Linked DNA regions of Homo sapiens: region 1 is linked to region 2. Evidence: fine-mapped expression QTL. A gene starts in region 2. The other region holds a variant in brackets. All regions are shown on one strand. Distances are from middle to middle.

Region 1 (15,679 bases), 19 kb after region 2:
GCTTGGTGGCTTATGCTTGTAATCCCAGCACTTTGCAAGGCAGGCAGATCATGAGGTCAAGAGATCAAGACCATCCTGGCCAACATGGTGAAACTCCGTCTCTACTAAAAATACAAAAATTGGCTGGGCATGGTGGTGCCCGCCTGTAGTCCCAGCTACTTGGGAGGCTGAGGCAGGAGAATCACTTCAACCCAGAAGGTGGAGGTTGCAGTGAGCCGAGATTGCACCACTGCACTCCAGCCTGGCAATGGAGTGAGACCCCGTCTCAAAAAAAAAAAAAAAAAAAAGAAAGCATATAATAGGTGCTCAATACATGGTAAGATCAAGTTTTTTAAAAACATTATTTTTTTAATTTTTAGAAATAGGGTCTTGCTCTGTCAAGCAGGCTGGAGTGTGGTGGCACGATCATCGCTCGCTGCAGCCTCAAATTCCTGGGCTCAAGCAATCCTCCCACCTCAGCTTCCCAAGTGGTGGGACTATAGGTACGTGCTACCATACTCAGCTAATTAAAAAAAAAAAACTTTAGTTTTGGTAGAGACGGGGTCTCACTATGTTGCCCAGGCCGGTCTCAAACTCCTAGGCTCAAGTGATCCTCCTGCCTTGGCCTTCCAAAGTGCTAGGATTACAGATGTGGGCCACCATGCCTTGCTGATGGTAAGATATTAATAGCGTTGTAGTACTAGCCAACATATAGGATCAAATATAAGTCAGATGCCATCCTTCCCTTGCACTAGACCCTCCATGGCTTCCATCTCACTCAGAGCAAAAGCCAAGTGCTCAGAGAGCCTACAAGGCCTTATGCAAGGGTCTAGCTGCCTTCCCCTGCCTCCCTACTCCCTCTCTGACCCACATGTTACTTCTCTGCCCATTCTTCACACCACTCTGGCCACCCTGGGCTCCTCACTATTTCCTGAACATGCCAGGCAATCCTGCCTCAGGGCCTTTGCACTTGCTGTTCCCTCTGCTGGATATGCCATTCCTTCAGACCCTCACGTGGCTCCCCACTCCCTCCCTTTGTTCAAATGTCACTGTCCCAGGGAGGCCTTCCCTGACTCGTTAAATGCCACCCCACTCCACAATCTTTGTCCTGCTTCCCAGCCTCACTCCTCTCCTTAGCGCTCATCCAACATACTATCTTTTTTAAAAGATTTATTATTATTACTTTTTTGACTCAGGGTCTCACTCTGTGTCCAGTGTGGAGTGCAGTGGCATGATCCTAGCTCACTGCAGTCTAGACTTCCTTGGGCTCAGGTGATCCTCCCATCTCAGCCTCCTGAGTAGCTGGGACTATAAGTGCATGCCACCATGCCTGGCTAATTTTTATATTTTGAGAGAGATGACAAGATGTCTTGTCATGTTGCTCAGGCTGGTTTCAAACTCCTGGGCTCGAGTGATCTACCCACCTCGGCCTCCCAAAGTGCTGGGATTACAGGTGTGAGCCACTACACCTGGCCCATCCAATATACTATCTATATTTCACTCATTCATTGTGTTTCTTGATGGTGTCCCCGACCAGGATGCAAGTTCCATGAGGGCAGGGTCTTTCTGCTGTTTCTTCCCTCGGTATCCTCAGTGCCTGGCACAGAGCGGTCACTGCAGATATGTGTAGAGAGGACGAACATAGTACTTACCACATTCCAGGCACTGCTTTAAGTTTCTTAGAAATATTCACTCACTGGACGGGTGCAGTGGCTCATGCCTGTAATCCCAAAACTTTGGGAAGCTGAGGTAGGCAGATCATGAGGTCAGGAGTTTGAGATCAGCCTGACCAACATGGCGAAACCCTGTCTCTGCTAAATATACAAAAATTAGCCAGGCGTGGTGGTATGCACCTGTAATCCCAGCTACTCAGGAGGCTGAGGCAGGAGAACTGCTTGAACCTGGCAAGCAGAGGTTGCAGTGAGCCGAGATCGCACCACTGCACTCCGGCCTGGGCAACAGAACAAGACTCCATCTCAAAAAAAAAAAAAAAGAAAAAGAAAAATTCACTCACAACAACCCAACCCAACAACCCAGAGAGTCAGATGCTATTATTATCATCCCCATTTTGCAGATGGGCAAACTGAGGCACAGAGAAGGGGAGTGGCTTGCCCACAGCCTCACTGCTAGTAAGTTACAGAGCTGGGACTTGAAGCCAGACAGCCCAGCTCTAGTGTCCTCTTCTATCTCTTTGTTGCTGTGATCCCATTTTGGAAACCAGTGAGTCAGATGGGCTCCTCAGGAGTCGCTATCACCCTCCCTGATGGGGGTGTTGGTTTCATCTCTGTTTCCTTGTTGAGCCAGCTCTGTGCCCCATGGGGGCTGAGTGGATGTTGCCCAGTGGACGGGGGTGAGGGATAGAGGTACCTTAGGCTCTGGATGATGATGAAACACATGCCTGCAATCAGTGCCCCGGCTCCCAGGATCCCAGCCGCAAGGAGCCCGATGGCAGAGCCTCCTGACAGGGACAGAGTGGGGTCTGGCTCCATGGGCTCTGCTTCTGTGGGCTGCATGATGGGTTCTGGGGACCAAGGAGGGGTGAGATTGGAGGAGCCATCTGCCCGCCCTCCCTGTGCACCCCTCCCTCCTGCCATTCCCCCTCCCAAGTGTCTCTTCAATCCATCCTTCTCTTCCATCCTCCAGGTCTCTGGCCCCCTCTCCTCCCTGCTCTCCTGCCCTAGTCCAGCACCCATCCACCTTCCTACCACATGGAAGCCAGGAGGATCTTTCTAAAGCTCACACCTGACCCTGTTCCTCCCCTGCTCAGAACCCTGCTGTGGCTTCCCAGCACCCTGGGGCAGAAGTCAGTTTCTCACCTTAGCCTTCGAGGCCCTGCCACCTGGCCAGCCTCATCTCTCTCATTGCCCTGCCTTTATAGCCATGCAACCCTGGACTCCACTCAATTTTCCAAGCTCATCCCTTTCTTTCTCTCTTGCCTCCAGGCCTGTCCATGCTGCACTGTCTCTCTGGAATGCCATCTCTCTCTCTTGGCTTGCATAATTCCTTTTTTTTTTTTTTTTGAGACAGAGTCTCCCTCTGTCACCAGGCTGGAGTGCAGTGGCACAATCTTAGCTCACTACAACCTCCACCTCCTGGGTTCCAGTAATTCTTGTGTCTCAGCCTCCCTGGTAGCTGGGATTACAGGCACATGCCACCATTCCCAGCTAAATTTTGTATTTTTAGTAGAGATGGGGTTTCACCATCTTCTTCACCATCTACTTCACCATGTTGGCCAGCGTGGTCTCAAACTCCTAGCCTCAAGTGACCCACCCGCCTCAACCTCCCAAAGTGCTGAGATTACAGGAATGAGCCACTGTACCTGGCCAGCTAAGCATAATTCTCAGCTCAGGTGTCCCTTCTTCCAGGAAGCCCTCCTTAACTCCTAGGCTGAGTCTCATAGCTCTCTGGGCTCCCCCATCCCAGCCCTGCCCACTCTGGTGATCACTGTCTGTGGACACTGGACTGTAAGTCTTGTGAAGGCAGGGCTGCAGCTGTCTTGGTCACCAGAGTGTTCCCAGCTGTGTGGGCTGGCCACACAGCAAGTGCTCATAAACATTTCCTGGGCAGTTGATGAATGAGCAAAGGAGGTCTTGGAAGTATTGTCCTTCTCACTGAATATCAGGGTCACTAGGTGATATAAGATTTACATTTTTTCCCCCAGTGCATCAGCCCTGAAGCTCCCACTGGACCCTGGCCAGGGAGGTGAGGTGGTTCTCTGGGACCCAGCCAAGCTGAGATTCCCATCACGCATTCCATTTCCATGTCCCAGCTCTGAACCTTGACTCATGCATTCTTTCCTACCCCAAATACCCTCCCTCTCTTCTCTCCTGGCCAGTTCCTCTGCATACCTCTAGTTCACTCCAAGCCATGGTAGTCCATTTTCATACTGCTATGAAGAAATACCTGAGACTGGGTACTTTATTAAAAAAAAGGAGGTTTAATGGACTCCCAGTTCCACATGGCTGGGGAGGCCTCACAATCATGGCAGAAGGTGAAGGAGGAGCAAGGCATGTCTTACATGGCGGCAGGCAAGAGAATGTGTGCAGGGGAACTGCCTTTTGTAAAACCATCAGAACTCGTGAGACTTATTGACTATCACGAGAACAGCATGGGAAAAACTTGACCCCATGATTCAGTTACCTCCTACCGGGTCCCTCTCATGACACATGGGGATTATGAGAGCTACAATTCAGGATGAGATTTGGGTGGGGACACAGCCAAACCATATCACCATGTGTCCCTCCATGAATAACACACTAAAAACAATATTCACCATAACAGCTGCTATTCAAGGCACCTGCTGCCTGACAGTTGTTCTGCCAAACTCAGTCACCCCTTGTTTTCGTTCCTTATAACAACCCTGAAGAGGTATATAGGATTACCTCCATTATACACATGAGGAAACTGGGGCTCAGAGAGGGGAAGTCACTTGCGCTAAGTTACCCAGCCAGGAAGGCACGGGAACAGGGACTGAACTGAGTTTTGACCAGGTCCCAAACCACTTCTCTGATCTCAACAACTTGCTGTCATTTTGATTGCCACCTAGGGCTCCATATACCGACTGTATATGGTAATAGCTACAATTAATAATGACAATGCTAATTGCAACAGTGTTATTGGCTCACGGTTATTGAGCACTCATTAGTGTTCGATAGTGCTAGACATTATTGTTTTAAGCTATTCACCGGCTTATCTCATTGAATGCTCACAACTACACACTGGGGTAGGCACTATTATCTTCCCAGTGTTATAGATGAGGAAACTGAGGCACAGAGAAGTCAAGGCACTGGCTCAGAGTCACACAGCCAGGGATTCAAATTCCAAAGCCATTGCTTTGAACCACTCCTTAGATGATGACAATGGTGATTTTTTTTTTGAGACAGTCATCCTCTGTCACTCAGGCTGGTGTGCAGTGGTGCGATTACAGCTCACTGTAGCCTTAAACTCCTGGGCTCAAGTGATCCTCCCATTGCAGCTGGGACTACAGGTGGCATTACCATGCCTGATTAAATTTTTAGTTTTTTTTTTTTTTTTTTTTTTTGGTAGAGACAGGGTCTCACTATGTTGTCCAGGTTGGTCTCTAACTCCTGGGCTCAAGTGATCCTCCTGCCTCAGCCTCCCAAAGTGCTGGGGTTACAGGTGTGAGCCACTGCACCTGGCCCACTCCTTAGATTTTGATCTGCATTTTTTGTAGGTATGTGCTGAGACTCAGAGAGGCAAAGAGGCTTCCCATGTTCATGTAACAAGCAAATGGTTGGAGCCAAGGACCCAGGTAGCCTGGTCCAGATCCTAAGCTGGGCTTTCATCATAGTTAACCTCTTTGAGCCTCAGCCTGTCATCTGAAAATGGCCTAATTGGCTGGGCGAGGTGGCTCATGTCTGTAATCCCAGTAGTTTGGGAGGCCAAGGTGGGTGGATCACTCGAGCCCAGGAGTTCGAGACCAGCCTGGACAACACAGTGAAACCCCGTCTCTCCTAAAAATACAAAAATAGGCCAGATGTGGTGGTGCATGCCTGTAATCCCAGCTACTCAGGAGGCTGAGGCATGAGAATCACTTGAACCTGGGAGGCAGAGGTTGCAGTGAGTTGAGATCACAGCACTGTACTCCAGCCTGGGTGACCGAGCAAGACTCTATCAAAAAAAAAAAAAAGAAGAAGAAGAAGTAGAAGAAGGAGAAGGAGAAGAAGAAGGAAGAAGAAGGAGGAGGAGGAGGAGGAAAAGAAGGAGAAGAAAGAAAAAGAAGAAGAAAGAAAAGAAGAAGAAGAGGAAAGAAGAAAGAAGAAGAAAGTGGCCTAATAATCCACAGTCCGCCAGGTGGATGGAACATTGGAATGACATTTTGCCTATAAAGGGTCTCACAGGGGACTGCTCATAGTAGGTGGCTTAATGGAATCATAGAGGCTGCCACAGGCTGGAGAGGGTGCAGGGCTCTTGGGTGGGGTGGGGTGGGGTGGAATGGGGGACTCACTTGGCAGCGAGATGGTTACAGGCTCAGAGACCAGCTGTTTCTTGCTGTTTGTGGCTATGCACATGTAGGTGCCCAGCTGCTCACAGGACAACCGTCGGATGAACAGCTTCTCTCCCATCCCACAGGGCACCCCACTGAAGGTCCAGCTCAGCACAGGCTCAGGGTCCATTGTCACCACCCACTGCAGGATCACAGAATAGTTGAGCTCACTCTGGATGACTCCCCGGATAGCAGCTGGGAATGTCTTCAGTGGCATTAGTTGGAGGCTGTCTGTGCAAACAGGGAACAAGGCCACAAGAGTGGAGTCCACTCAGAAAAGCTGGGCATTTCTTCTGCCCACCATAGAGACATCCATTCTTTCATGTGTTCATTCATTCATTAATTCACCCATGAATGTGTTTGAAGAGCCTGGTCTGTGCCCAGTGCCCCCAGTCCAACCCCTTGCCCTTCCCACTTCCAACGGCCAGCACCTGCATCCCGTTGCCTGAGGACTTTCACTGGTGGCCAAAGCCTACTCTGCCCATGGAGGCAGCAGGCTGGAAGTGCTGGGGAATGAGCACATCAGGGAGCAGCCCTCCACAATGCCAGGACACGTTGGTATATAAATTCCCCAGCTCCCTCTCTGCTATGTGGGATAACTCTGCAGAGTCATTCCACACCAGGGCCTGAGTTCCCCAATGGGACTGTGCTCCAGTTGCCCATGGTAACCAGCTTGGGAACACAGCTTTTATTATTTCCTGCCTTCTCTGCCTAACTTCCCCACTCTCGAGTTCCTTGCACCTCCCAAACAGACTATCTGTCCTTGAATCCTCGCCTCTGGATCTGGGTGAACCAAATCTAGGACTCTAAGGCTCTAGGACTCGGGGGCTCAGCAGTGATTAAACAGACGCTGTTGCTGCCCTCATGAAACTTACGATTGAGTGAGGAGAGGGTCAACAAACTGACAAGTATATATAGTGGTGGTAAGGGCTGTGAGGAAAACTGCACAGGGCTGTGGGGTTGGACTGGGGGTGGGGTAAACCCGTTTCAGGTAAGGTGGGTCAAGGAGGACCTCTTTGGGGAGGTTATGTTTGAGCAGAGTCCTGAAGAAGCAGAGGAATAAGCCATGTGGATTCCTAAGAAAAAAATGTTCCAGGCAGAGGGAACACCAAGTAAAAGGCCCTGAGATGGGTGTGAGCCAAGGTGGGCATAGAGAGGAGGGAAAGGGAGAGAGGGCTGGGAGAAGAAGTCAGAGAGATAATGGGAGCAGATCATGCTGGGGTTTCCTGGGCCAGGGTGAGGACTCTGATTTTGACTCTGAGTGCAGTAGGACCCATGGGAGGACTGCCCAGAGGAGGGACGTGAGCTGGCTTAGGTTTGAACAGGCTCACTCTGGCTATCATGTGAGAACTTGACTTTAAGTTTGGAGGAGTGGAAACAGCCCAGCGAGGAGGTGACCCAAGAGGTCCCCACTTCTTGTCTGCATTTTTCAGGTGAAAGGCTCTGAGGTTTGGGGCTCATTAGGGCCAGGCTTCGTGGTCTAGTAGGGACACATCTGGGATTTGAACTCCCAGACTGTGCTGGGAACTTCCACTTAGAGCTGATTTCTGATTTCAATGCAATGTTATAAGTGAAAAGAACTTTAGCACAACCAGAGACCTCATGAAAGGCTTCCTGGAGGAGGTGTCTGAGTTAAGCCTTGAAGGAGGAGAAAGAGCCCACTAGGTGTACAAACAAGAGGCAATATAACAGCCACCTGGATTGGGCTCTTTTTTTTTTTTTTTTCTTGAAACGGAGTTTTGCTTTTTCATCCAGGCTGGAGCTTGGCTCACTGCAACCTCTGCCCCCTGGGTTCAAGCAATTCTCCTGCCTCTGCCTCTCTATAGCTGGATTATAGGCACCCGCCACCACATCCGGCTAATTTTAGTATTTTTAGTGGAGATGGGGTTTCACCATGTTGGCCAGGCTGGTCTCAAACTCCTGACCTCAGGTGATCCACCCGCCTCGGCCTCCCAAAGTGCTGGGATTACAAGCATGAACCACCATACCCGGCCATGGATTGGGCTCTTACTGTGAGCCAAGCACACGTGTTAATCCATGGCTTGTTATACTGCATGCGAGACCCATGCCCAGGTGTCTAAATCATTAGTAGACTGTGATCAACATTCAAAACATGAAAAGAAATATTATAGAAAACATCAGAGAGCATTACTCATAGTAATAACTGTTACTACACTTGCCTTTTGGTTAGTTGTGGGATATACTGGACATGATGTGAAAAGCATTTCTCATGAAAGCCACTGGATTTATTCATTTAATCCTCACAACAATCCTATGAAGTAATTATTATTATTCCTTTTTTTTTTTGAGACAGGGTCTTGTTCTGTCACTCAGGCTGGAGTGTAGTGGTGCAATCATAGCTTACTGCAACCTCCACCTCCCGGGCTCAAAGTCTCCTCCAGAGTAGTTGGGATTACAGGCGTGCGCCACTACATCCAGCTATTTTTTGTAGAGATGGGGTCTCACCATGTTGCCCAGGCTGGTCTTGAACTCCCGGGCTCAAGTGATCCACCCACCTTGTCCTCCCAAAGTGCTGGGGTTAAAGGTGTAAGCCACCGTGCCGGCCTTATTCCCATTTTGATGAGAAAAGGAAGGCTCAAAGAAGTCAAGTCCTTTGAAACAAACAGGGCTATTTTTTTTTTTTTTTTTTTGAGACAGGGTCTTGCTGTGTCCCCCAGGCTGGAGTGCAGTGGCAAGGTTACAGCTCACTGCAGCCTCAACCTCCCGGGCTCAAGGGATCCTTCCATCTCAGCCTCCTGAGTAGCTGGGACTATGGGCGCACATCACCAGGCTTGGCTAATTTTTAAATTCTTTGTTGAGATGGGCGTCTCATCATGTTGCCCAGGCTGGTCTCGAACTTCTGAGCTCAAGCAATCCTCTCACCTCGGCCTCCCAAACTGCTGGGATTACAGGTGTGAGCCATAGCACCTGGCCAGGGCTAACATTTACTTGCTCTTTGTCAGGCATTGTTGTAGGCATTTAGCACTGATTAACTCACTTACTCCTCACAGTCACCCTATGAGGTAGGTTCCACTATGACCTCATTGCACAGATGGGGAAACTGAAGTGCAAAACAGAAAGTTACTTTTTTGCAGGGACTCAGGGGCATAACAGATGCCAGAGGGATTTGATCCAGGGAGTTCTGGCCACACAGCCTGCACCACCGAGCGTGAGTTCCTGCAACCTCTCTCTTTAGAAAGGGCCCTTCGGACTGAGAATGGCATAGGCGAAGGTGTGGAGCCAGGCCTTTAGAAGAATTAGCCTTCAGGCCGGGCCCGGTGGCTCACGCCTGTAATCCCAGCACTTTGGGAGGCCAAGGCAGGTGGATAACCTGAGGTCAGGAATTTGAGACCAGCCTGGCCAACATGGTGAAACCCTGTCTCTACTAAAAATATAAAAATTAGCCGGGCGTGGTGGCGGGCGCCTGTGATCCCAGCTACTCAGGAGGCTGAGGCAGGAGACTCGCTTGAACCCGGGTGGTGGAGGTTGTAGTGAGCCGAGATCGCACCACTTCACTCCAGCCTGGGCGACAGAGCGAGGCTCCATCTCACACACACACACACACACACACACACACACACACACACACACAAAATTAGTCATCAAATCACAGAAATACAGATGGATGAACCTCAGCGGTCCATAAATTCTCTGGGAGGGGAGTAAAAACCCCTCTGTGCAGAAGTGGGGTTCTAAGTGTGCAGTGGCATGGTCTTGGCTCATTGCAACCTCCGACTCCCAGGTTCAAGCGATTCTACTTCCTCAGTCTCCTGAATAGCTAGGATTACAGGCGCCTGCCACTATGCCCGGCTAATTTTTGTATTTTTAATAAATACGGGGTTTCACCATGTTGGTCAGGCTGGTCTTGAACTCCTGAACTCGTGATCTGCCCGCCTTGGCCTCCCAAAATGCTGGGATTACAGGCGTGAGCCACTGCGCCTGGCCGACACTGGAACTTTTTGAGTCTTTGTTAGAGCATCAGAATCTGAACCCTAACTAAGTTGATCTCTGTTATGAACTGAATTGAGTCCCCCACCAAACATATATGTTGAAACCCTAACCCCCAGTACCTCAGAATGTGACCGTATTTGGAGATAAGGTCTTTAACGAGGTGATTAAGTTAGAATGAAGTTGTTAGGGTGGGTCCTAATCCAACCTGACTGGTGCCCTTATAAGAAGAGGAAGTTTGGACACACAGAGAGACACCAGGGATGTGCACACACAGAAGAAAGACCATGCAAGGACAGAATGAGAAGGCACCCTTCCGCAAGTCAAAAAAGAGAGGCCTCAGAGGAGATGAAACCTGCCAGCAGCTTCATCTTGCAATCCATCCTTCAGAACTGTGAGGGAATAAGTTTCTGTTGATTAAGCCTAGAGTATTTTGCCCGAGCCGACTAGGACAGTCTCTGGACTATCTTCTAAAAGGAGGATGGGTCTGGTTACTCTCAGGGCTTTGTTTTCCTAATTCAGATATGAAAGTTTGAGTCCAGGTGATAAAAATATAGATGAGGTTGAAGGCTGCTACCAGACCTTCTCTACCTTTCCCAAGTGATGATGAATGCGTATCTCATGAATGTCTGTTGCAAGTCTTGGCTGTTATAATGTGGATATTTATCCCTGCCAAAATCTCATGTTGAAATGCGATCCCCAGTGTTGGTGGTGGGGCCTCAGTAAAGGTGTTTGGGCCACAGGGGCGGATCCCTTATGGCTTGACGCTGTCCTCATGGTAGTGAGTTCTCATGAGATCTGATTGTTGTAAAATGTGGCACTTCCTCTCTGACTCTCTCTTTCTCTTGCTCCTGTTCTCACGGGAGACACCTGCTCCTCCTTTGCCTTCGCTATGATTAAAAGCTCCCTGAGGGCTCCTTAGAAGCTGAGCAGATGCTGGCATTACACTTCCACCTGTGGAACCATGAGCCAATCAAACGTCTTCTTCTTTTTTTTTTTTTTTTAAATAAATAACCCAGTCTCAGGTATGTCTTTATAGCAATGGAAGAACAATCTAACACAACGACAAAAAATAGCCACAACACATTGCAACTCCTCTCCTTAAGAGGTGGGGCCTTTTTCCTTCCTGTTGAAGCTGGGCTGGCCATGTGACTTGCTTTGACCAATAGAAGGTGGCAGAAGTGATGGTGGTCAGTTTTGAGCCTGGGCCTGAAGGAGTTTTGCAGCTTTACCTCTTGTTCCTCTTCCATTGCTGAGTGAACAAGCCTGGGATAGCCTGCTGGAGGTTGGGAGGCTATGTGGCCCACTCATCCCCATCACTCCAGCCACCAGCTGGTCCATGGCCAGGCACATGAAGGAGGTCATTCTGGACCAGCCAACACCCAGACACCCCAACAGCTGAACACAACAACTGTCCAGCTAGATAAGTGATTGATGTTTTAAGTTTTGGGGTGGTTTATTGGGGAGCAATGGATAACCAGCATGCAAAGTGTCCTGGTGGGCTCTTCTGAGGTCCAGTGGGTCTGCTTTCTGAGAAGTCAGCCCCTCCCACTGCGGGGCCCCACTCACTCTTGACATGGATCTGCTCCGTCACACTCCTGTGTCCCCTGCTGGTTTCCAGCACGACGGTGTAGCTGCCCGAGTCCTGAGCCGTCATTTTCTAATGACCAGGCTGCCTTGGGTTCCCAGCATCTCCCGGCCAGTGTGAGCAGGTCCTGGGAGGCCCTTCGGGGAGAATATCATGGCTGCTGGCTGGGCGTCATACCCTCAGAACCAAGACGTGGTGAGAATGCCTTCAAGCCTTCCGGGGACAGGAAGATGGACACTGGCTCCTTCGGTCAAGGTGTTCAGCTGTGCCGAGAAGGGCAGCTCTGAGAAGGCAGAGCAGGTGCAGGATGTGAGCAGGGCGCCTTGGAAGAGCAGGGAAGGAGGAGGAATCATTGATTCCTCTCCTTGACCCCTTGAAGCACGCACGTATATTATACTGGATGTTGCAAAAATTGGTTTTCTACCCTTCTCTGCTCCACTCTGCTGCCTGAAAGGCTGACTTCTCTGAGCTGTGTTGTTGGGGTCCCCTTACCTTTTGCTGCTGGTTGGTTTCTGTCAGTGGGCACGTTGGCAGAAGAGGAGAGGGCAGCGGGGGAGTAAGCTTGAAGGGATTAGTCCTACAGTTGGCTGGGTCCTTCTGTTCCAGCCCACAGCTCCTGTTGAGTGTCTCTCTCCATATACTACTAATGTCTTCTGGTTCTGGGATCTGCTT[T/C]GCTCCATTTACTCCTACCCAACCCCTCACCCAACATTTTCTCACCACCTTATTTAGAAATAATAAAGGGTTATAAATCAATGTGAATGGTACATTTTTAAAGGGTGACATAATGTTTGTTCTGGACACTGATTAAGTTATAACCTTGCCACTATTTTTTCTTTTTAAAATTAACAAATACAAATTGTGTATATTTATGGTGTACAATGTGATGTTTTAAAATACATATACATTGTGGAATGGCTAAATTGAGCTAATTAACATATGCATTACCTCATGTACTTATTTTTTTTGTGGTGAGAACACATAAAATCTACTTTCTTAGCCAATAATTTACTCATTTAAAGCGTACAATTCAAGAGCTTTTAGTATACTCACAGAATTGGGCAACCATCACCTCAAGCAATTTAAGGACATTTTCGTCACCCCAAAAAGAATCCCTGCGTCTCTTGGGCACCACACCTAATCCTTTCACTCCTGATAGGCATTTTTTTTTTTTTTTTAATATAAGAGTAGGCCGGTGTGTTGGCTCATACCTGTAATCCTGCACTTTGCGGGGGCGGGGGGAGGGGTGGGGCAAGGCTGGAAGATTACTTGAGCCAGAAGTTCAAGACTAGCCTGGGCAACTGAGTGAGGCCCTGTCTCTACAAAAATAAAAAATTCGCTGGGCATGGTGGCACGCGCCTGTAGTCCCAGCTACTCAGGAGGCTGAGGTGGGAAGATTCCTCAAGTCCAGGAGTTTGAGGTTTCAGTGAGCTATGATCCTGCCACTGCACTGCAGCCTGGGTGACAGAGCAAGACCTTTCTCCCTCTCTCTCTCTCTCTTTTTCTCTCTCTCCCTCTCTCTCTCTACATATATGGTATTACTCATATATACTCATATATATATATTTATTTATTTCCATTTTTATAGCAGAAAACTTAGACTCCTAGAAATAAACACTATGTTTTGGAAACTTTTACTGTTTTTTTTTTTCAAGCTTTATGCTTGTTATTGTTTCTATTTCCTTCTTCTTTTTTTTTTTTTTTTGAGATGGAGTCTCGCTCTGTCGCCAGGCTGGAGTGCAGTGGTGCAATCTCGGCTCACTGCAAGCTCCACCTCCCGGGTTCAAGTGATTCCCCTGCCTCAGCCTCCCGAGTAGTTGGGACTACAGGCGTGCGCCACCACGCCCAGCTAATTTTTTTGTATTTTAGTAGAGACAGGGTTTCACCATGTCGGCCAGGATGGTCTCAATCTCCTGACCTTGTGATCCGCCTGCCTGGGCCTCCCAAAGTGCTGGGATTACAGGTGTGAGCCACCACGCCTGGCTGTTTCTATTTCTTTTAAACAAAAAGTAGAATTATGTTCAGCAATTCTTACAAGGCATCACAAAAAACAACGTCTGCTCCTCATTATAGAATAATTTGGAAAGTAAAGTAAAAAGCAGTAAAACAAATCCTTAAGCCTAATACTCAGATAACCACTTTGGGGAGTATATTTTCTTTGAAGGTTTTTCATAATTTTTAAAATTAATTTTTAATCACTCAAGAGCTTCTCCTTAGGAAAAAAAAGTAGACCCATATAAAGCCAAATATCCCTTTGACCTCCACCCCTACGCTTGTCCTGGTCACACTCTCGAGGTACCTGCTGTTATCAAGAGAACATTTTGTATTTACAGAGTTGAAGTTCGTTGCACTGTGGCTTTGTTTTCCTTTGGACAATGTTTTGTAAGCTCCCCCAGCTCACTTTGCAAACATGTTGTAAACCACTTTCTAAAAACTGGTTGCTGTTTTATCCAGTGGCACAGCCAATTTCCAAAGTACCCCACCCTCCCGCCCCCAGGAAGATCCAGCAACACACAGCATGCCGTGTTTCCATCACAAAACTACAGCAGCCTAGGAGAAACTTTCCAATCTCCTTTTCTTTCCTTCCTCCCCTCTGCCCTCCGCCCTGAGAGAGGCCTCAGACAACAGCTCTGACAAAATAGGGAAGAGGCCCACCACGTCCCTTTCCTCCTTCCAGTGTGACACCTGCCTGAGCTGGGGACAGAGCAAAGCTTTGAACTAGGTGGACTTTGAGGTTTTAAAATTACATGGAACTGAACTTTTTTTTTTTTTTTTTAAAGATGGAGTTTCGCTCTTGTTGCTCAGGCTGGAGTGCAATGGCACCATCTCAGCTAACCGCAACCTCCGCCTCCTGGGTTCAAGCAATTCTCCTGCCTCAGCCTCCCAAGTAGCTGGGATTACAGGCATGCACCACCACGCCCAGCTAATTTTCTGTTTTTAGTAGAGACGGGGTTTCTCCATGTTGGTCAGGCTGGTCTTGAATTCCTGACCTCAGATGATCCGCCCGCCTTGGCCTCCCAAAGTGCTGGGATTACAGCACTTTGTAATCCCAGCCACTGCACCCGTGAGCCACTGCACCCGGCTCAGAACTGAACTTTATTTATTTATTTTTGAGACGGAGTCGTGCTCTGTCGCCCAGGCTGGAGTGCAGTGGCACGATCTTGGCTCACTGCAAGCTCCGCCTCCCGGGTTCACGCCATTCTCCTGCCTCAGCCTTCTGAGTAGCTGGGACTACAGGCGCCCGCCACCAGGCCTGGCTAATTTTTTGTATTTTTAGTAGAGACGGGGTTTCACCGTGTTAGCCAGGATGGTCTCGATCTCCTGACCTCGTGATCCGCCTGCCTCGGCCTCCCAAAGTGCTGGGATTACAGGTGTGAGTCACCGCGCCCAACTCAGAAGTGAACTTTTAAGACCTGGATAAGGAAGCAATTCATTCACTATCTGAGAGGCAGATGTGTGTGGTCTCTGGAAAGTGTGGTCTGGGAAGCCAGCCCATCTGGCTTCAAATCTTCAGTCTGCCACTTCCAAGTGTGTGACCTGGAGAGGGCACATGACCTCTCTGAACCTCAGTTTCCCCTTCTGTGAAATAGGGATCGTACAGCTCTGATCTCAAAGAGTTGTGATAAGAGGTAAATGTTACTATAGGAAAGCACTTAGAACGGGCTGACAGGCTGGGCGCAGTGGCTCACGCCTGTAATCCTGGCACTTGGGGAGGCCGAGGCAGGAGGATCGCTTGAGCCCAGGAGTTCGAGACTAGCCTGGGCAACATAGTAAGACCTCATCTCTACTAAAAATAAAAAATTAGCTGGGTTTGGTGGCGCATACCTATGGTCCCAGCTACGCAGGACGCTGAGGCAGGAGAACAGCTTCAGCCCAGCAGGTTGAAGCTGCAATGAGTCATTATCGGGCCACTGCACTGTAGCCTGGACAACAGAGCAAGACCTTGTCTCAAAACAAAACAAAACAAAAAAACAAAAACCCCAAACAGGCTGGTATATAGATCTATTCAGTTACAGTGACCTTCTATTACGGCTGTTATTATTTTATGATTGTTATTATTTATATGTATTATTACTAAGTTGCGGATTGCAGGGGTGAGACAGGGCATTCTGGTGGAAGGGGGCTGGGCTGGGGTCCCAAATTCTGATCCTGCCCCTTGC
Region 2 (13,836 bases):
TTTTGGGTATCAGGATCCTTGCTTTCCTGTCTGTCTGTTTCAACTTTCTCCTTCTTCACCAGATAAAGTAACAGTAACCGACAGCTCTAAGGGGCTCACATGGGCCAGCGGTGAAGCGCCGCTGCCCTAAGGCTGCAGCTTTGGTCTTGGGCAAGTCTGTGCCTCAGTTTCCTTGTCTGTCAACAGGTGATAATGATGGAATCACAGGCAATTAGAATATGCAGGTAAAGCTCTTAGAATGGCACATAATAAGTGCTCAATAAATATTGTTTGGTGGAAAGTGCTGGGGCCCAGCAGTGATCAAAATAGCCCCGGTTCTGCCCTCATGGGTACACAGTCCAAGGGGGCAGACAGACTCTTTCCTAGGCAGTGATGACACTCAGGACAGCTTTCCAAGGGTGATGCTGTTGTCACCAACCCTTTTACAGATGAGGAAAGGAGGGACCCAGAAGAGGCCACCCAGGCCTCCTCCCTTCCTTCCCAGTCCCCTCCCAGCTCCCTTTCCAATATACCCCTCCTCCTCCCTCAGGGCTTTCTGATCCCAGGCTTGGGGGTCCTTACTCCCTGAGATCTCTGCTTTCTTCCTGCCCTGCAGCCCCTCCCCCCACTCACCTCCCCCCACCCCACCCCACATCATTGCGCTGCCCCCTCCTTTTGTCCCCAGGGGATCTGCTGTGGAGGGAATCTCCCTCCCTCCCAGGCCTCCCCGCTCTTTGCCAACTTCCCTGATCCTCCCACCAAGTCTCTGCCTTTCATTCAGCCTCCCCAAAACCCCCTGCTCACCAAGCACTCGGAGCCAGATATCCACGCTCCTGCTGCCCTGCGGGAACGTGACGAACAGGCAGGTGTAGTTGCCTTCATCCTCTACGCGCAACCCGAACATCCTCAGCGAGGCATTCCGCAGCTCCGCGCCCAGTCTGGCTGCCACGAATTCCAGCCGTTTGGACTCCGAATAGCTGGGGCCCTGCGTTTGGTGGAAGACGGCCATGCTGCCAGATTCACCATGCCGCGCCCAAGTCAGCTGTGACACATGCGTCACCTCCATGTTGGGCACCTGTAGGTAGCAGGGCAGCGTCACGGAGTCGCCCAAGAAGCCGGGCACCTGGGTGGGCGCCTGCACGACGACGTCCCCTGCGGAGAACCGAAGAGAAGGTGTCAGACCCGGGGCGTTCTTGGACTAGATAGGGAGGGGCTCCAGGAGCCCGGGCACCTGGGCGTGCACTTGCACGCTGGGGCCCTGGATCCCCGGTGGACCGTGGGGTGTGGGGGGAGGGGGAACTGGGGCACTAGTTGGGGCCATGGCAGGCGAGGAGGGTAAGGGCGTCTGGGATGGTCTGCAACTTGGCCGTGCTCCTTCACTTTGGCTATTTATTACCGTATTTCTTCTATTATTACCGTATTTCCCTGAATCTCAACATCACTGATTTAAAAAATTGTGGTAAATATTGTGGTTAAAAAACTAAATTTACCATTTAAGTCATTTAAAGCATACAGTTCAGTGGCACTATGTACATTTCACGATATTGTGCAACCGTTACTACTATATAGCGCCAGAACTTTTTCTTTTCTTCTCTTTTTTTTTTGAGACGGAGTCTCTCTCTGTCGCCCAGGGGGAGTGCAGTGGCGCGATCTCTGCTCACTGCAAGCTCTGCCTCTGGGGTTCAAGCGGTTCTCCTGCCTCAGCTTTCCGCGTAGCTGGGATGACAGGCTCCCACCACCACACCTGGCTAATTTTTTGTATTTTTGTTTTTAGCAGAGATGGGGTTTCACCATGTTGGCCAGGCTGGTCTTGAACTCCTGACCTCAAGTGATCCTCCCACTACGGCCTCCCAAAGTGCTGGGATTACAGGTATGAGCCACCGCACCTGGCCCAGAACTTTTTCATCGCACCAGTGTCGTAGGTTTCACATACCATGACTGTTGTCATTTATAGCACAACTTGCCATTAGGGGTTAGAATAACCCCAATGTAGAAAACGGGGAGAAATCTTGGGTCTTCAAATCCATGAAACACTGCATTATTACTCTGGGTGGGTCCTGGTTGGAAGAATGTGGGGGATTGAGGCACGAGAGGAAGGCAATTATAGCCCAGGAGTTTTGGGTCCCTTCAGTTTTCTGCTGTGGAGCTTCAGGCCGGTTACTTAACCTCTCTGATTCTTTTTCCTAGTTTGTAAAATGAGACTTAGAACAGTGGACACTCACAGGGTGCTGACACAGATCAGGGGCTATTCTGGGTGCTTCACATATATCTTGGCATTTAATCCTCAAATAGCCCCCCTGAGGCAAGCACTACTGTTAACATCATTTTACAGACAGGGAAACTGACACAGAGTATAGTGTCCTCCAAGTCATACAGAGGTTTAGTGGCAGAGGTGGGATTTGAACTTGGGCGGTCAGAGACTGACCTCTAATCCCCCAGGTCCTATATAAAAATCTTTCTGCTAAGGGCCCTAGCACATAGTAGGTCCTCAAAATGTGACAGCGCTTATTGACACTAATAAACATGGTCCTATGCATTCTTTTTTATTTTTAAATTTTTATTTAGTTAATTATTTTTGTAGAGATGGGGTCTTGCCATATTGCCCAGGCTGGTTTTGAATTCCTAAGCTCAAGTGATCCTCCCACCACAGCCTCCCAAAGTGTTGGGATTACAGGCATGAGCCACTGTGCTTGGCTGCAACCAGCCTGGGCAGCATAGCGAAACCCTGTCTCTACCAAAAATACAAAAAAAATTAGCCAGGTGAGCACCTATAATCCCAGCTACTCCAGAAGCCACAGTGAGAGGATCGCTTGAGCCTGGGAAGTCGAGTTTGCAATGAGCCGGGATTGTACCACTGCACTCCAGCCTGGGCAACAAAGCAAGACCTTGTCTCTCTCATACACACACACACATACACGCACACACGCACTATATATATATATATATATATATATATATACACAAAACATATAAATAAATAATAAAATATGTTATCTATTTACTCTTTAAATGTATAATAAAATATATATTATTTATTATATAAATAATATATGTTATAAATATATAATATATTTAATATATATTTATTAAGAAATATATTATTATATATTATCAATTATATAATACATAATACATATTATATATTATAATAATATATATAATATATAATATACATATTATATATTATAATAATATATATAATATATAATATACATATTATATATTATAATAATATATATAATATATTATAATATATTATATATTACTATAATATATATTATATATTTTATTATATATTATATATTACTATAATATATATTATATATTTTATTATATATTATATATTACTATAATATATATTATATATTTTTATTATATATTACTATAATATGTAATATATAATAATAATATATAATATATATATTTATCAGGAGTTTGAGACCAGCCTGGCCAACATGGTGAAATCCTGTATCTACTAAAAATACAAAAATATTAGCCAGGCATAGTGGCACATGTCTGTAATCCGAGCTACTCGGGAGGCTGAAGCAGGAGAATCGCTTGAACTCGGGAGGAGGAGGCTGCAGTGAGCCGAGAGCAGGACACTGCACTCCAGCCTGGGTGATGGAGTGAGACTGTCTCAAAAAAAAAAAAAAAAGAATGAAAGAATGAATGAATGGCCAGGCCCCTGGAGTCAGACATTGGGGGTCAGAGGGGTAATGGTGTCAAGTGTCACCCACTGTCCTCCTCCCCAACATCAACCATCCCCTCCGTCCAGACCCAGCCTGCCAGCACGCTGCTGGGTTATGGCCTGGGTATGCTGAGCAGGAACCTGGGTAAGGTAATCCGGCATGCGTCACCATCTGCTGATTTTCCGGGATTCACTTGCCTTTTTGGGAAATTTCCTCACCCAACTCCATCCCCTTTCCGAGGGGCCCAGAGGAGGGTCTTGTGCCCGACCCGTGTTGCTGCCAATTTCGAGGAATTTCTGTACCCAACTCCGACCGCTCTCCGGGTGGCCAAGAGGAGGGTCCTGCCCTCGCACCCTCGCACCGTGTTCCTTCCAACCCCGGGGCAGAGATGGGGGGTGGGTGGCGCCGGGCGGGGCCGTCATCTTCGGGAACCCAAGGGGGCGAGTACCCGGCCTGGATGCGGAGCTGGGAGCCAGACAGGGGCCACCGGACTGCGCGGGGGTCACTCACCGGTTCCTGGGGGTGGCCAGGACAGCACCAGTAGCGCCACCAGCAGCAGCGGCCACGCGGCGGCCATGGCTCGGGCCATGCCAGTTGCTCCGAGCAGCTGGGCCTCCCGCGGGCGTCTCCTCGCTTCCCGGCGCCCGCTCGCTCTGCCGCGGTCGCTGCGAGTCCAGCTCCCGGAGCTCAGGTCCTGGAATCCCCGGGGGGCCGCTCCTCCAGTGCCTGGGGTGGGAAGGGGAATACCCACTTCTTCAAGCTCCAGACAAGTGACTGGAGCGGAGGGGAGTTGGCGGCCAGTCCCGCCAGGCGCGGGGTGGGCCACCCAGGCTGGCCCTCCCCGCGCGCCTGCGCCTGCGCAGGTCTCTCCCGGCGCTCAGTCCCGCTGCAGACGCGCGCTCGCTCCGTCGGTGCCCACTAGAAGAGGCGGCTTCCTGTGTGAGGTCGCCCACATTCCAGGTGAGGAAACGGAGGCACACGGAGAGATTCAGCAACTTACTAACGGCTCGCGGTTGCCGAGTGGCAGAGCTGAGGTTCCAACTCGTGATGGGACAGATCCTGAGCCCACCAGGCTGTCCTTCCACGCAGCCTAAACTTCCCATGGGCTTTGGGGTCAGACAAGACCAGGGCTCATGTTGGGCAAGTGGTTTCTCCTCGAGGGCCCTCAGATTCTTTATCTGAAAAATGGGCATAGTAGGGCGCGGTGGCTCAGGCCTGAATTCCAGCATTTTGGGAGGCTGAGGCAGGAGGACTGTGTGAACCCAGGAGTTAGAGGCTTCAGTGAGCTACCATTGCGCCACTACACTACAGCTTGGGTGGCAGAGCCAGACCTGTCTCAAAAAAAAAAAAAAAAGTTTGGGGGCTGGGGGAGCAAGCGCAGTGGCTGACGCCTGTAATCCCAGCACTTTGGGAGGCCGAGGCAGGAGGATCACCAGAGGTCCAGGAGTTCAAGACCAGCCTGGCCAACATGGCAAAAACCCATCTTTACTAAAAATACAAAAATTAGCCGGCATGGTGGCACATGCCTGTAATCCCAGCTACTGGGGAGGCTAAGACAGGAAAATCACTTGTACCCGGGAGGCAGAGGTTGCAGTGAGCCAAGATCGGGCCTCTGCACTCCAGCCTGGGCGACAGAGTGAGACTCTGTCTCAAAAAGAAAGAAAAAAGGGCATACTAACAGTACTTACCTCACAGCGTGGTCTGTAAAACTTAAACAAGAAACTGCCTAGCTCAATTTCGGGGATATAGTTTGTACTAAATAAAAAGCTGATATACCAACAATAGCAGCAGTGGCAGTGACAATTATTATTATTGTTGCTTTACAGTTGGCATCAAATAATAATGTTCATGAGAATGGTCATTCATTCATTCTTCATTCAGCATATATTTATTGATCCAGCCAGTATCCCAGGCACTGGGTATACAGCAGAAAATAAGACAGACAAAAATCTCTGCCTTTAATGAAGACCGTGTTCTAGTGGAGGGAAACAGACCATAAACAGATTAATACCAGAACTCCATCAGGTCTGGGGAAGATAAGGGTTATGGACCAGCCTGCAGTAGGGAGAGGGGAGGAGGGAGGGGGGAGAGAGAAAGAGAGAGAGAGAAAGAGAGAGAGAGAAAGAGAGAGAGAGAGAGAGAGAAATGAGAGAGAAACAGACACACTCAGAGATAAGGGCTGGGAGACAGAGACAGAGAGATTGAAAGAGATAGAGACACAGCATAGACAGAGGGAGATGAGAGAGAAATGAGAGGTGACAGAGAGACTCAGAGAGCCAAACCCTCAGAGACAGAAACTGAGAGACTTCCTGGTCCCCAGAGGTGGCTGTCCTGGCCAGGGTCTCCATGAGGCCGACTAACAGCTCTGGTCCCTGTGCTCTGACATCTTTATATGTTTTTTATTTTTATTATTATTTTTAGACAGGGTCTCACTATTTCACTGAGGCTGGAGTGAAGTGGCGCCATCATTGCTCATTGCAGCCTCCACCTCCTGGGCTCAACTCCTGCCTCAGCCTCCTGGGTAGTTGGGACCACAGGCATATGTGATCACACCCAGCTAGTTTTTAAATTTGTTGTAGAGATAGGATCTCGCTATGTTGCTCAGGCTGGCCTTGAATTCCTGGCCGCAAGCGATCCTCCCACCTCGGCCTCCCAAAGTGCTAGGATTGCAGGCATGAGCCACTGTGCCTGGCCCCACATTCCTGTATCTTTCTGTAAAATCCTTCCTTTGGCTTTTGGCTGGCTTGGAGGTTTCTGTCCCCGGGTGCCCTCTCTAACTTGGATCTGATGCTTGTGTATGACACATCTGATGCTTGGGGTCTCTCACCCTGGATGTATGTAGGTGAATTTCTAAATGGAAACAGGGAGGCTAGTCTCTTGGAAATCTCTGAATTTTCTGTCAGTGTTGTTTTGCTGAGTTATTTCCAAATTGGGAATCTGTGGCCATCGTTATGTTCCTCCTCTGGATGATGCTGTCACCATCTGGGATTCCCCCACTTCTCTGGGCTCCCAAGCTCCTGTGGCTCCAGGGACTCCTCTCAGGGCCCTGGAGGGTCAGAGGCTGCTCCGAAGAAGCAGGCTTAGAAGAAAAAGCAAGTTTGGTTCGGGGCATATCTGCTTGCTTCTGTGTGTTTCTCTGTCAAGAGTCTAAATTCCTTGAGTGTTTGGACCAGTTGTAGACATTTTCTTCACTCAAGTGCTGAAATATCATCTGATAAAATAGTGAATGGAGATCTCCAATGGGCATCTTATTTTTTGTGTGTGTTTGTTTGTTTTGAGACAGTCTTGCTCTGTCTCCCAAGCTGGAGTGCAATGGCGTGATCTCGGCTCACGGCAGCCTCCGCCTCCCAGGCTTAAGTGATTCTTGCGCCTCAGCCTCCCAAGTAGCTGGAATTACAGGCCTGCACCACCATACCCAGCTAATTTTTTTGTGTTTTTAGTAGAGATGGGGTTTCACCATGTTGGCCAGGCTGGTCTCGAACTCCTGAACTTAGGCGATCCACCCTCCTCAGCCTCCCAAAGTGCTGGGATTACAGGCGTGAGCCACCATGCCCAATGGGCATCCTCTTGATGCTGTGGTTTTCAAACTTCTGGATCCAAAAGGATCATCAGGAAGCTTGTGTAATTAAGCAAATATGAATCCATTTCCTTATTCTTCCCTCTCCCATTAAAAAATAAAATGGTAGCATTATTCTGTATCTTTCTGTTTTTCACTTAGCAACATATCTTGGTGATTTTCCCATAGGCAGATATATTGAGCTACCTCATTCATTCATTCACAAATGTGTACTATTCCATTACATGAATGCACCGTCATTTTTGAAACTGTCTTCAGGGGATGGGCTTTTTGGGTGTTTCCAGCCCTTTTGTACTTGCAAACTGTGCTTCCCTGGGTCATCATGTCCATGGCATTTCCCATGTATGTAACAGTATCTGTCATATTTATTCCCAGAAGCTGATTTGCTGGGCCAAAGGCCATGCACATTTGTGGTCTAGAGGATGTTGCCAAATTGCTGTCCAGCACTCATGCCAGCAAAGTAAGGTCGTGGAGTGGCTTCTACCCAGAAATGCTCACGGCAGTCAGGGAAGGTTTAAAATTTTCAGATATGCCCCCACCCCCTGTATTTCTACAAAAAATTAAAAAATTAGCCAGGTGTGGTGGCACATGCCCATAGTCCCAGCTACTTGGGAGGCTGAGGCTGGAGGATCCCTCAAGCCCAGGAGTTTGAGGCTGCCATGAGCCATGATTGCGCCACGGCCCTCCAGCCTCGGTGACAGAGTAAGACTCTGTCCACCCCAAAAAAGAAAATGTCAGATGTGAAGCTTTGTCCAGAAGGGTGTGATGTAGGAGGCCTGGGAGCAGGGGGAGAAAGAAAGACATGGAGAGGAAGAAAAGGAGATTGGGAACGAGGGCTCCAGAGACTCCCTTGGTTCAAATTCTGCTTCCACTAATTGGTAGCTGGGAATCCTAAGCAACTGGTATCGCTTCTCTTGCCTCTTTTTTCTCATCCATAAAATAGGGGGTCATAAAATCATGTGGTGTTAGTTAAATAAGTTATTTAGAAATAAGTTATATGTGGCTGGGCATGGTGGCTCATGCCTGTAATCCCAGCACTTTGGGAGGCTGAGGTGGGTGGATCATTTTGAAGGGGGCCTGCCCCTCCACACCTCTGAGTATTTCTCACAAGGTGGAGACGAGAGACTGAGAAAAGAAATAAGACACAGAGACAAAGTATAGAGGAAGAAAAGTGGGCCCAGGGGACCGGTGCTCAGCAAGTGAGGACCTGCACCGGCACTGGTCTCTGAGTTCCCTCAGTATTTATTGATCACTATCCCTACTATCTCGGTGAGGGGGATGTGGCAGGACTATAGGGTAATGGTGGGGAGAGGGTCAGCAGGAAAACGTGAGCAAAGGACTCGGTGTCATAGATAAATTTAAGGAAAGGAGCTGTGCCTGGATGTGCACGTAGGCCAGATTTATGTTTGACTTTACACAAATATCTCAGTGCAGTAAAGAGCAGTATTGCTGCCAGTGTGTCTCACCTCCAGCCATAAGGCAGTTTTCTCCTATCTCAGTAAATAGAATGTACGATCGGGTTTTACACCGAGATATTCCATTCCCAGGGACGAGCAGCAGACAGATGCCCTCCTCTTATCTCAACTGCAGAGAGGCCTTCCTCTTTCACTAATCCTCCTCAGCACAGACCTTTTATGGGTGTCGGGCTGGGGGACGGTCAGGTCTTTCCCTTCCCACGAGGCCATCTCTCAGGCTGTCTCAGTGGGGGAAATCTTGGACAATACCCAGGTTTTCTTGGGCAGAGGTCCCTGCTGCCTTCCGCAGTGTATGGTGTCCCTGGTTACTTGAGACTGGAGAATGGCAATGACTTTTACCAAGCATACTGCCTGCAAACACATTTTTACCAAAGCACATCCTGCACAGCCCTAAATCCATTAAACCTTGAGTCAATACAGCACACGTTTCTGCGAGCACAGGGTTGGGGCTAGGGTTACAGATTAACAGCATCTCAAGGCAGAAGAATTTTTCTTAGTACAGATCAAAATGGAGTTTCTTATGTCTTCCTTTTTCTACATAGACACAGTAACAGTCTGATCTCTCTTTCTTTCCCCCACACTTTTGAGGTCAGGAGTTCAAGACCAGCCTGGCCAACATGGTGAAACCCCATCTGTACTAAAAACACAAAAATTAGCTGGGTGGTAGTCGTGCACACCTGTAATCCCAGCTACTTGGGAGGCTGAATCACTTGAGGTGGAGGTTACAGTGAGTCAACGTCATGCCACTGCATTCCAGTCTGGGCAACAGAGTGAGACTCTGTCTCAAAAAAAAAAAAAAAAAAAAAAGAAATATATGGTCTAAAAAGTTATTTATTTAACTGCTCAACAAATGGCAGCAATTATTATTGATGTCTCCTGGGGCTTATGATTCTTTATCTGAAAAATGGGCATAGCATGGCACAGTGGCTCAAACCTGAAATCTCAGCACTTTGGCAGGCTGAAGTGGGAGGACTGTTTGAGAAGAACGCATTAAAGCTCTTTGGTGCGATGCCTGACAATTACCACTATGGAGACGTGGCTGCTCTTTAAACAATTTTTAAAATTTTTTTATTTTTGGCAGAGTCTTGCTCTGCTGCCCAGGCTGAAGTACAGTGGCACAATCTTGGTTCACTGCAACCTCTGCCTCCCGGGTTCAAGCGATTCTCATGCTTCAGCCTCCCAAGTAGCTGGGATTACAGGCCCGCACCACCACGCCTGGCTAATTTTTTTTGCATTTTTAGCAGACAAGGTTTCGCCATGTTGGCCAGGCTGGTCTTGAACTCCTGAGCTCAGCTCAGTCAATCCATCTGCCTCGGCCTCCCAAAGTGCTAGGATTACAGCTGTGAGCCACTGTGCCCGGCCAAAAAAATTTTAATTTTTAAATTTTATTTTTCTTAAACACCAACTCCAACCAGAAGACCTGGCTGCTCTTTTATTTATTTATTTTTTTTTTTGAGACGGAGTCTCGCTCTGTTGCCCAGGCTGCAGTGCAGTGGTAACGATCTTGGCTCACTGCAAGCTCCACCTCCCGGGTTCACGCCATTCTTCTGCCTCAGCCTCCCGAGTAGCTGGGACTACAGGCTCCTGCCACCACGCCAGCTAATTTTTTGTATTTTTAGTAGAGACAGGGTTTCACTGTATTAGCCAGGATGGTCTTGATCTCCTGACCTCGTGATCTGCCTGCCTCACCTCCCAAAGTGCTGGGATTACAGGCGTGAGCCACCGTGCCCGGCCATCTGGCTGCTCTTGTTATTAATGATCTTAATGTTGTTCTCTAGTACAGCTGACCCCTCCCTCACCAGGAAGCCCTCCTGGATCCTCCAGTCTCCATTAAGACTCCCCCCTGGCCTCCCAGAGGAGAGTGATGACTCTGGGTCATCACTGGGAACAGGTCTGTCTCCCTCACTGTACTATAAGCCCTAGGAGGGCAGGCCCAGGGCTGCTGTGGTCACCTCTTGAGGCAGGAGAATAGGGAATTAGGGTAACCAAGGGTAAAGCCATAAGCAAAAGAACGCAGGTACACCTAGTTCTAGGCAAGATTAGGCAGCACACAAGCCACATCCCCATTCGTGTGATAACAAGGGACAGGGTTTCACCATGTTGCCATGCTGGTCTTGAATTCCTGACCTCAGGTGATCTGCCCGCCTTGGCCTCCCAAAATGCTGGGATTACAGGCGTGAGTCACCGTGCCTGGCTAACATCTCTTACTTATTTTATTTTATTTTTGAGATACTGTCACTCCCTCACCCAGGCTGGAGCACAGTGGCCATGATCTCGGCTCACTGAAACCTCTGCCTCCTGGGTTCAAGTGGTTCTCCTGCCTGAGCCTCCCCGGTAGCTGGGATTATAGGCATGTGCCCCCACATCCGGCCAATTTTTGTATTTTTAGTAGAGATGGGGTTTCACTATGTTGGCCAGGCTGGTCTTGAACTCCTGACCTCAGGTGAGCCACCTGCCTTGGCCTCCCAAAGTGGTGGGATTACAGGTGTGAGCCACTGCGCCTGGCCTGCTATGACACATTAATCATGTAAGGTAAATAGTCAGTGGCTGGCACATGGAGAGCCCTCAACAGACAAGACTTGGACTCAGTTCTGCTACTATTATTGCTAAGCAGAATGCCATGTTAGGTGGTTCTGTGTTGGTCACAGAAGCACCGAATTTTCCTCAAATGTGAGATATATCCCCCAGAGGAGTTTCAGCCATACTTGTGTGCCCTGTGCCTGCTATCTGTCAGGATCCTCCTATGGAGAGGTATTAAACTTGAACAGTGCAAAGCTCAAAGGTTGATCTTATTTGCAAACATGCCTCTCCCACTCTCAGGAAGAGAGGCTTCATGAGAAACCATTCAGAAGTGGTGGTGTTTTAATTTATTTTTTGGTTCTTTTTGAAAAAGAGAAAAAAAAAGCAGCATGTGTAAAAGACATATTTTGGGGTCTGGCCAATTTCCAAGGTAAAACCTCCCCCCTGTTTTCTGAGCACTGAGCTCCCACAGACAGGGATGAGCCTCTGATGCTTTGCTTGCACAACGTGTCACGGCGATGGGACCAAGGATGGCACCGAGTCAACCCATCAGATGTTTTCTTCAGGTGTTTCAGAAACAGGGCAAAGGGAGTCTGGTTACGTTGGGTTGTTCCCTTGAACAGAGATGTTGTAGACTTGGAAGCTATGGGATGGGTTTTTTTTTCCACGTGGATAGAGAGGTACAAAGCACCCATCTGCAGAGAGAGACAGAGAACTGTAAATTCCACATGCAGGAGGAAAGGAATTGTAAGGGCTTGGGGTGGGGGTGAAGTGTGTGTGTGGGGGAGGCTGGCAGAGAGAGCTGTGTGTACTTCCACATTTCTTCGTAGATTGCAAAAATGGCCACAGATTTTTCCCTTCTTAGCAAGAGGTGGAGTCAACTTCCCCATCCCTTGAATTTGGCCAGTCATGTAACTTTGGCCAATGAAGTCCTTTCTGTGGCAGAAGTGATGGCATGTCCATTTTGAGCTTGAGACTTAAGGGGCCTTGAAGTTTCTGCTGTTACTCTTGGAATCCTGCCTCTGCCATGTGAACAAGCTTGGGTCACCCTGCTGGAGGATGAGAGACAACATGAAGGAGAGGCCAGTTGTCCCAGCTATGAGGCTATCCTAGTCCAGACAGCCCCTGGGCAATCTGTCAACTGACCCCAGATGCAGGAGCGAGCCTGGCAGAGACCAGAACTACCCAGCTGAGCCCAGCCCAAATGGATGACCCATGAAATTGCAAGCTAAATAAATGGCTGTTGTTTCAAGCCAGTGAATTTTGGGGAGGCAGTTTGTTACAAAGCAAATGCTGACTCACACCTATGGATTGCTGAAAAATTTCATAGGTCCTTATATTAAACTGTTCATTTTATTTTTTCCTGAGCTACGTCAGTGAGTTTCTTTTGCATGGAGCCCAAGAGGTTTATGAAATATAGACTGCTTGTTTAGGCAGCTTCCAGGAATTTGATGAGCTGGGCAGATGGGGTGCTGGCAGTTGGCAAAAGAAGAGAAAAGCAGCTCCTGGAGCTCTCCACAGGAGGGGAACATCTCACAGACAAATGACCAGGGAACCAGGAGGGAGGAAATCACATATGGAGTCTCTGCCCAAGAACTTCTTTCTGTTCCCAAACCTAGGATTTCCTTCACACCCTTCCTGGTATTACCTCTTCAGCTGACAGGAGAGTTGCCCACATTTCAGCTGCATATTCCTATTCTCTGCCTGTCAGTCCTGCAGTGGAGAGAGAGAGAGAGACAGAGAGAGAGAGAGAGAGAGAGAGAGAATAAGAATCATCGACTGAATTATTATCCGTTCCCCAAATTAATATGTAGTCCTAACCCTCCAATGTGACTATATTTGGAGATAGATTCTTCAGACACAGTAAGGTTAAATGAGATCATAAGAGTGGGGTCCTGATCCAATAAGACTGGTATCCTTACAAGAAGAGGAAGAGACCCCAGGGATGAGCATAGAGAAAAGGTCACGTGAGGACACAGTGAGAAGGTGGCCTTCTGCAAGCCATGGAGAGGGGCACTATGGGACATCAAACTGGCTGCCACCTTGATCTTGGACTTCCAGCATCCAGACTGTGAGAAAATAAATTTTTGTTGTTTAAGCCCCCCCGGTCTGTAGCATTTTTGTTACAGCAGCTGGAGCAAACTAATACAATCATCATCATCACATGGCTGAGGTTTATTGAAGGCTCATCACATTCCAGGCACTGTTCACAGCTCATGACTCCCACCATTTTACTTAATCCTCACTCCTGTCTTTGGAGGGAAGTATAATCACATCCCTGGGTTTTTTTTTTTTTTTCTTTTTTCTTTTTTTTGGAGACAGTCTGGTTCTGTTGCCCAGGCTGGAGTACAGTGGCGCTATTTTGGCTTACTGCAACTTCCGCCTCCCAGGTTCAAGAGATTCTGTTGGGAACATGCCCCCCAAAATCTGGCCATAAACTGGCCCCAAAACTGGCCATAAATAGTGGCCTGACCCTCCAGTTCTTTCTTTTCTGGAGGACGCTGGGCGAAAAGTAGTTGCCCCAGTGACTGTTCGAGCAGCGCCTGGAGCGACTGCTGTCAGTTCTATTCAGGCAGGAATCCAGCAAGCTAGAAGA

What was found.
Region 1: its variant is fine-mapped to the expression of PVR in tibial nerve (GTEx, PIP above 0.99).

What each region holds. Positions count from the first base shown.
Region 1 is chr19:44,614,241-44,629,919 of GRCh38, reverse strand. It overlaps IGSF23 (immunoglobulin superfamily member 23), which reads right to left. Exons shown (of 5, transcript NM_001205280.2): 2 at 5,948-6,213; 3 at 2,347-2,500. Among named protein-coding and RNA genes, the nearest start is that of IGSF23, 8.5 kb to the right of the region's middle. RefSeq lists an enhancer at 14,444-14,945. The variant T/C (reference allele first, on the strand shown) is at 12,195.
Region 2 is chr19:44,634,518-44,648,353 of GRCh38, reverse strand. It overlaps PVR (PVR cell adhesion molecule), which reads right to left and starts at 4,444. Exons shown (of 8, transcript NM_006505.5): 1 at 4,179-4,444; 2 at 784-1,131. The coding sequence starts at 4,257. It overlaps IGSF23 (immunoglobulin superfamily member 23), which reads right to left. Exons shown (of 5, transcript NM_001205280.2): 4 at 12,889-12,953; 5 at 11,573-11,935. The coding sequence ends at 12,920. RefSeq lists a silencer at 4,413-4,492 and an enhancer at 11,311-11,605.